Homo sapiens: one gene and its partner. The protein of the gene in region 1 purifies or fractionates together with the protein of each later gene. This does not show direct contact. Each region holds a gene or a part of one and is shown on either strand. Other genes may lie near its edges.

Region 1 (3,751 bases):
TCTGGGCATTGCCATGGCATTCGTAAACTGTCAGAGTGCTGGTGGAAGTGTTGTAGCATGTTCATGTATTATAATTAGTGTATAATGAGCAGTGAGGGCACTAGAGGTCACTTTGGTCACCATCCTGGTTTTAGCTGGCTTGGGCCTGTTTCTTTAGGGCAGTTTTGGCCGTTTTTTTAGGGCATCCTGTTCTGACCAGATCCTGTTTTGCTCAGCAGGTGGTGATCAGTGCTTGGAAAGTCCTGCTGATCTCCTACCTCAACTATAACTGTGCAAATACTTTTCAGGGGGATAATGGAAATGTTCTTAAATTATAGTGATGGTTGCAAATGGTTTTAAAATTACTGAAAATGATTGAATGGTACACTTCAAATGAGTGAATTTTATGGCATGTAAAGAAATGTTTTTTAAAAACACAGCTAAAAAATTAGGAGACAAAGAAGTATTAAGACTTTGTAATTTGGGGAAACACTTGTGATAAATGACAGCGACTATGTGGTTTTGTGGAATGTATTTCCTTGTATGTACCGTGACAGAAAAGAGGGCAGGTGCCAACTGCACTGGGCTTGGGGAAGATTCATTCATTTAAGAAATTTTTTTTTTTCTGAGCATTATTCATACACAAGAGGTTCACGGTTAAAACAAAAATTTACAAAAAGCAACCCTTTCTTCACCTGGGAGCTTATAGCGCAGTGAGGAGACACAGATACATCCATAGCTCGTGAGGTGACCGGGGAAGGACAGGAAGAGCGGGGAGGTGATCAGGGGAGGCCTCGCTGTGAAAACCACGCGCCCTGTCGACCCCGAGGAGACGCGGCCCACGCTGGGAGGGAGCAGCCAGGACAAAAGCCGGTCGTCGTGGGGTCCCGCCTGGTGAGTGGGGGTGAGGACAGCGAAGTGTGGGCTGCCCTGGGCTTCCAGGGAAAGGAGCCAGATGGAGAGGGGAGATGTGGGGGACCGATCGCGTGCAACAGCCTAGGCCACTGCCGGCCGCTGGCTGTGGCAATGAGCGCGGAGCCTTTGGAAGATCCAGGGGACAGGCTTCCACAGCATCCACGTGGCTGCGGCGTCGCCGACAAGGCCCAGGCGGGGGCAAGATGGTACGAAGCGACCATTTAAGTGATTGTTACAATCATCCCCGCAAAGATAACAGGGGGCTTGACCCCATGTAGAAGTGTGCGAAGCGGCTGGTTTCTGTCAGCGTTTGACCTTAACGGGAGTAACGAATCGACTATGGGTGTGAGGAAGACTGGTCAGAGCTGATCGCGCCTCGGAATGGAGTGGTGGCTGGGATGCGGAAAGGCCCCGAGTGGAGCAATCCTGGGTGAGGCGGAAACGGGGGCTGACTTTCCAGCCGTCCGCGTGCTACTGAGGCGGCGGCCACCCTGGCACCTTCCCCTAGCTCCGCTAGTCCGCGCGTACAGCCCTGGGATGTGGCGGGCTGGGAGACCCACGCTCCCGGCGTGCTCTGCGGCCCGGCCCGCGCACCCGGGGGGCGTGGCCTGCGCGCGCGTGCGTCGTAGCCGAACGCTGTGGCGGGGCAGGCGAGGCGGTCGCTTCGAGCGCGCTAGTCAGCTCCCTGAAGGGAGTGACGGCGGTTGGGTGCCCGCGGCCACTTTTGCCTTCCCGGGTAAGTGCGGCGGTGGCGGTTGGCGCCGCCGGCTGACGGGCGGCTTCCTGGGAGACGGGGAGAGCACCCGGCAGGCCCGCCTGAGACGTTTGAGGCTCGCGGGCGTCACTCCTCAGGGGCGTCTGGTCCGAGCCGGGAGGCGTTCCGCTAAGTTCGGTGCCCGCGGGCACCAGCCGGTGGGGGCTTCGTCCGCTTTGCCGGGTAGGAGGGCGGAATGTGGGGTTGGTACGGGCGGGGAGAGCCGGACGGGGCCAACCTGGACCACGTCAGCCAGTCCCGGGTGACTGGCTCGAAGTAGCCTCGGAGTTGAGAGGGGTCGACCGGGGCAGCCCGCGGCGCAGCCCCGGCAGCGCGCATTTGCGGAGAGAACGGATCCCGTGCCCCGAGCGCCGCCGAGCCCCGCACGCCCGTGAGACCCGCTTTGAATTTTCTCTCCATGTTTGCTGGGGTTGTTGACCCGACCCCCCGTAAGACTCGGACTCAACGTTTTTGTTTGCCCCACGACAGCCAGCTTAATGCTGTGGACGTAACAGGGCACGAACGTTTGTAACTGAAAGTTGAAGGGGCTGTGGCGTCTCCGTCCCGTGGCGTGGGAGGTGATCGCCCAGCCCTTGTGAGTAGTTGTCGTCCTAGAACTCCGCCGACCGCCTAGCCGGTGGAGCCGGCGCTCCGGACGCCACTAGAGCTGGCGTTTCGTGGGCGCAGCACCTCTAGCCGGTCATCTTCACCATCGCCATTGAGGGCACTGAGGCCGGGCCAGGCTTCAAACCCTGCCCTCTCTGAACCTGAAGCCAGAGATGAAAACCCAGACGACAGTGGCCTGGCACGGTGGCTCACGCCTGACCCCAGCACCATGGGAGGCCGAGGCGGGTGGATCACCTGAGGTCAGGAGTTCAAAACCAGCCTGGCCAACATGGTGAAACCCCGTCTCTACTAAAATTAGCTGGGCGCGGTGGCGGACGCCTGTAATCTCAGCTACTCGGGAGGCTGAGGCTGGAGAATCTCTTGAACCCGGGAGGCAGAGGCTGCAGTGAGCCGAGATCGCGCCGCTGCACTCCTGCCTGGGGGACAGAGCAAGACTCTGTCTCAAAAAAACAAACCCAGATGACCTAGAGCAGGTTGCTTGGGGATTGCATTATGGGGCATTTTCCGTGTTTCTGAAGAAAACCAGCATGTGTGCAGCTGCCGTGAAGAACACACTGTGCATCGTGAAGTCTGAAAAGAAGTAAAGCAGACCGGGAGAGGTGGCAAACGCCTTGGGATCCCAACGGTTTGGGAGGCCAAGGCAGGGGGTATCGCTTGAGCCCGGGAGTTCAAGACCAGCCTGCGAAACATAGGGAGACCCTCGTCTCTACAAAAACATTTAAAAATAATAAGCGGGCGTGGTGGTGAGCGTCTGTAGTCCCACCTACTCAAGAGGCTGAGGCGAGAGGATCGCTTGAGCTCAGGAGTTCGAGGATTCAGTGAGCTTATGATTGCGCCACTCAATTTTCCGGCCTGTCCGCCGGAGCGAGAACCTGTCTCAAAAAAAAAAAAAATAGGGAAGCATTCTAAATTAAGATAGTGGTTGTTTACATGCATCTAAATTTACTCCTTCATGAAGTTTCACTAAACTTACATTAAGGCTATTTAAAAACAAACATGAACCTCCAGCAATGGGAGAATAGGAAAGGAAACGCTGGCAATCAAATAGCGGGCTCCAAAACATGTATGGCTTAGCAAACCCTGTATTAACCACAGAATCTTCAAACTGCACGGAAACTGGCAGCACTGGACAGCGGTGGTACTGGGAATGAAGGTGGTGTGGTGCAGAAGGTGGGTGTAAGGAGCTTAAAGAAAGATGATTTAGGTGAAATCTGAGAAGCAATTGGATATCCAGATCCCCTTCCCCATTTCACCTGTTGGGTGACTGCCTTTCCCCTTGTTAGAAGACTGGATGGAGGCTTATTCTCTTGAGAAAGTAAAACAGAGGATCTTTGAACTGAGAAACCCAGGCATAATTGTGGGGCTGCATGTATGAAGATAGGGACACTGAAGCTTGAAGTCTTTCATCTCCTTTGTCTCACTCAACTTCCAAAACTTTTGCAGTCAGATCAGACTAATGCTCTCCAGGCTGAAATA
Region 2 (3,651 bases), on another chromosome or scaffold:
CTTCAAAGAACTGAACTTAAGTTGATATCACAGGTGCTAATACCTATGAGATAATGGGTAAAAGGTGCTGCATACTGTTGGCACTCAGAGGTAGCTCTCCCCATCCACAGCCATTCCACTTTCCCCGACTGAGTGTACCCTCAGGGATCTGTCCATTTGTATTTACCCTCAACACTTAAATAGGCAGTGTGGGCTATGCTCTCCAAAACTGAGAATCCTCTAGTCTTTTTATGTGCATGCACCTATCCCTCCAAGGGGAATCTGAGTTCTCTGAAGACAAAAAGCATGGTTTCTTTTCTTCTGTATTTCTTATTGTTTCCTAGGATAGGGCTGGGTACACACACAGCAGATAATAAGTATTAATAGAAGGCATTCAGATTTGAACCTTATATATTTCCAGTGTCTGCCTCCTCTATTCATAATAAAGATGGCTTTGGCTACAGGCTACTCTGATATTCACTAAAAAGAATGAAATACTTCTTAATTTTGGATCAATTAAAAAATAAATTATAATCAATTTTCATTGTGGATTAGAAAGCACTGAATGCTTTTAGAAGGAAAAAAGGCCTACATGGTTCTTCTGCATAGGTTTCAAAATTCTAGTATAAAATTAACCAAAAATATCTGAAGTGAATATTGAAGCTATTATAAAGGGAATGTACCTGACTTCTTAAATTACCGACCTTCCAACAGAGACTTACACATATGCCCGTATAGTAATCTAACTCGCACATTCCCGTTAAGCCTTCTAGAACTGAATGAATAAATCTTTTGATTTAAGTATCCCCTGGTGTTTCTAAAGATTTTCCATTTAATAGATATATTGTTGCCCAGTTCATTGTTAGGTACAATATAGAAAGTATTATTTCATGTGTATTATTAGACACCAAAGATGAAGGTAGTATGAACACCAAAGATGAAGACAGTATTTTTAAAAAGTTTAATTCTTTCTAAAAATGCACTCTAAGTGAACAAAATAAAGTACATAATGAACATTCATCTCTGAAGCTCTGAAAAATGCTGAAAAGTTGGTCTTCCTAGGCTAACGGTATCTCTGTGTCTAAATTCTGTATATGATGTTCACAAGGGCTCTAAGTCCAAAAAATTAGTCTAAATATTTTTGAATTATTTAATACAGCAGCTATTCTACTGAATTGCAATGGTTAGAAATTAAGGAATTTCAAAACAAATCTTGGTATTTTTCCACAGCATTCAGTAAATGTTCTAGACTAACTATATGCCAGGTTTTGTACTAGGCATGAGTAATTCAAAGATTAATAGTAAGACATAGTAGCCTACTCAATGCTTTTACCAGAGTGCTTTAAATTTCTGGCTTTCTCTTCAGAATTCTGATATTTCAATTCCAATTCCTTTTTATCTTCCTCTAGAAGCTCCAGTTGCTGTTTGAGGTTGTGTATTTCTTTGTGGAGTGTTTCATTTTCTAGTTGCTCTTCTAATTCTTTGACCTATAAGTTATTTAAAAAAAAAAGACTTTTATGGCTGACAGTTTTTCCTTTGTCAAAGAAAAGAAAGGGAAAAAATAAATATTTCCCTTTGACTGTACTTCATAGCAAACAGATTCCAATCCATCTTAACAACCATGCAAATGCTAGATACAATTAACACACAATCATAAATCAGCTAAAGAGCTGATTTAAAATAAATTTACTGGGGAGTTACGTACCAGACACTTTAATTTTTTTTAAGTTTTATTTTAGGTTCGGGGTACATGTGCATGGTTGTTATATAGGTAAATTGTGTGTCACAGGGGCTTGGTGTACAGGTTGTTTCATCACCAAGGTAAAAAGAATAGTACCTGATAGATACTTTTTCGATCCTCTCTCTCCTCCCACCCTCCATCATCAAGTAAGCCCCAGTGTCTGTTGTTCCCTTCTTTGTGTCCGTGTGTAATCAATGCTTAGCTCCCACTTAGAAGTGAGAACATTTGGTTTTCTATTCCCATGTTAGTTCACTTAGGATTATGGCCTCCAGTTCCATTCATGTTGCTACAAAGGACATTATCTCATTCCTTTTTATGGCTACACCGTATTCCATGGTGTAATATGTACCAGATTTTCTTTATCCAGTCTACCACGGATGGGCATTGAGGTTGACTCCATGACTTTGCTGTTGCATATAGTGCTGCGATGAATATGTGTGCACGTGTCTTTATGGTAGAATGATTTATATTCCTTTGGGCATATATCCAATAATGGGACTGTTGGGTTGAATGGTATTTCTGTGTTAAGTTCTTTGAGAAATCGCCACACTGCCTTCCATAATGGCTGAACTAACTTACATTCCCACCAGCAGTGTTTAAGCGTCCCATTTCTCTGAAACCTTGCCAACATCTGCTATTTTTTGACTTTTTAGTAACAGCTATTCTGACTGACATGAGATGGTATCTCATTGTGGTTTTGATTTTCATTTCTCTAATGATTAGTGATGTTAAGCATTTTTTATATGCTTGTTAGTCACACAGACACTTTAATTTTTAAACATGGGTCACTTTTGTACCCATTTTCAAAAGAAAAATTCAGGTAATATTTTAAAAGACTCCTGGGGGACACAAATTTAGTAATAAGTATCAAAAGTCTTCAAAAAAAAAAAAAAAGGAAAGGCTTTCGATTCAGTAAAACCATTTTTAGAAATTATTTTTTAAAATACTCTGAAATATATTCACTGAAGTGGTTTTTTGTTTTGTTTCGTTTTTGTTTTTGTTTTTGTTCTGAGATAGAGTCTCACTCTTTCGGCCAGGCTGGAGTGCAGTGGCGCGATCTGGGCTCACTGCAAACTTCGCCTCCTGGGTTCAAACAATTCTTGTGCTTCAGCCTCCTGAGTAGCTGGGGCTACAGGCACATGTCACCACACCCGGCTAATTTTTGTATTTTTAGTAGAGACAGGGTTTCACCACATTGGCCAGGCTGGTTTCGAACTCCTGGCCTTAAGTGATCCACCTGCTTTGGCCTCCCAAGGTGCTGAGATTACAGGCGTGAGCCACCACACCTGGCCTGAAGTATTCTTTACAACAGCAAAAAGTTGCAAATAACCTAAATGTCCACCAATATTTTTAGTTTAATAAATTATAGCATGTTTATTCAATGAAATACTATGCAACTTTTAAATCACATAGCTTACTATATACTGACATGAGAAGATATATTACCAATGGAAAAAAAATCAAGGCATAAAATAGTATGCATAGTATGATTCAATTTAAACAAACTATATTTATAAAGGTATATATTTACAGAAAGTTCAGCTATGCACCAAAATATGGGATACTTGGTTAATCTTCTTTAACTTTTGCTGTATTTTAAAAATGTATTATAAGGAGCATATGCTATTTTTATAATTGCAAAAACCATATGCTGTGCTTAAAAGACTGCTGCATCTGCAAGGGAACTTACAGACAGCTAAGAAACATTTTAAGCGACATACAGATGGTCCCCAATTTAGGATGGTTTGAGATAGTTTTTCGACTTTACAATGGTGTGAAAGCGACATGCATTCAATACAAACCATACTTCAAATTCTGGATTTTGATCTTTTCCCAGGCTCGCAATATGTAATAAGATACTCTCTCAACAATCCTCTGCAGCGGCAGCCAGCCACAGCTCCCAATCAGTCACATGATCATGCGAGTAAATA

The links. The genes of interacting proteins can lie anywhere in the genome.
Region 2: the proteins of TEX30 (region 1) and SHTN1 purify together in Homo sapiens (affinity purification with mass spectrometry; one large-scale study listed by BioGRID and IntAct). This does not show direct contact.

Annotation. Positions count from the first base shown.
Region 1 is NC_000013.11:102,771,561-102,775,311, reverse strand, and holds the start of TEX30 (testis-expressed protein 30), read left to right. Parts: upstream 1-1,525; 5' UTR 1,526-1,630; exon of another isoform or gene 1,631-3,751.
Region 2 is NC_000010.11:116,928,537-116,932,187, forward strand, and holds part of SHTN1 (shootin-1), read right to left. Parts: intron 1,467-3,651; coding exon 1,313-1,466; intron 1-1,312. UniProt on the Homo sapiens protein: Involved in the generation of internal asymmetric signals required for neuronal polarization and neurite outgrowth.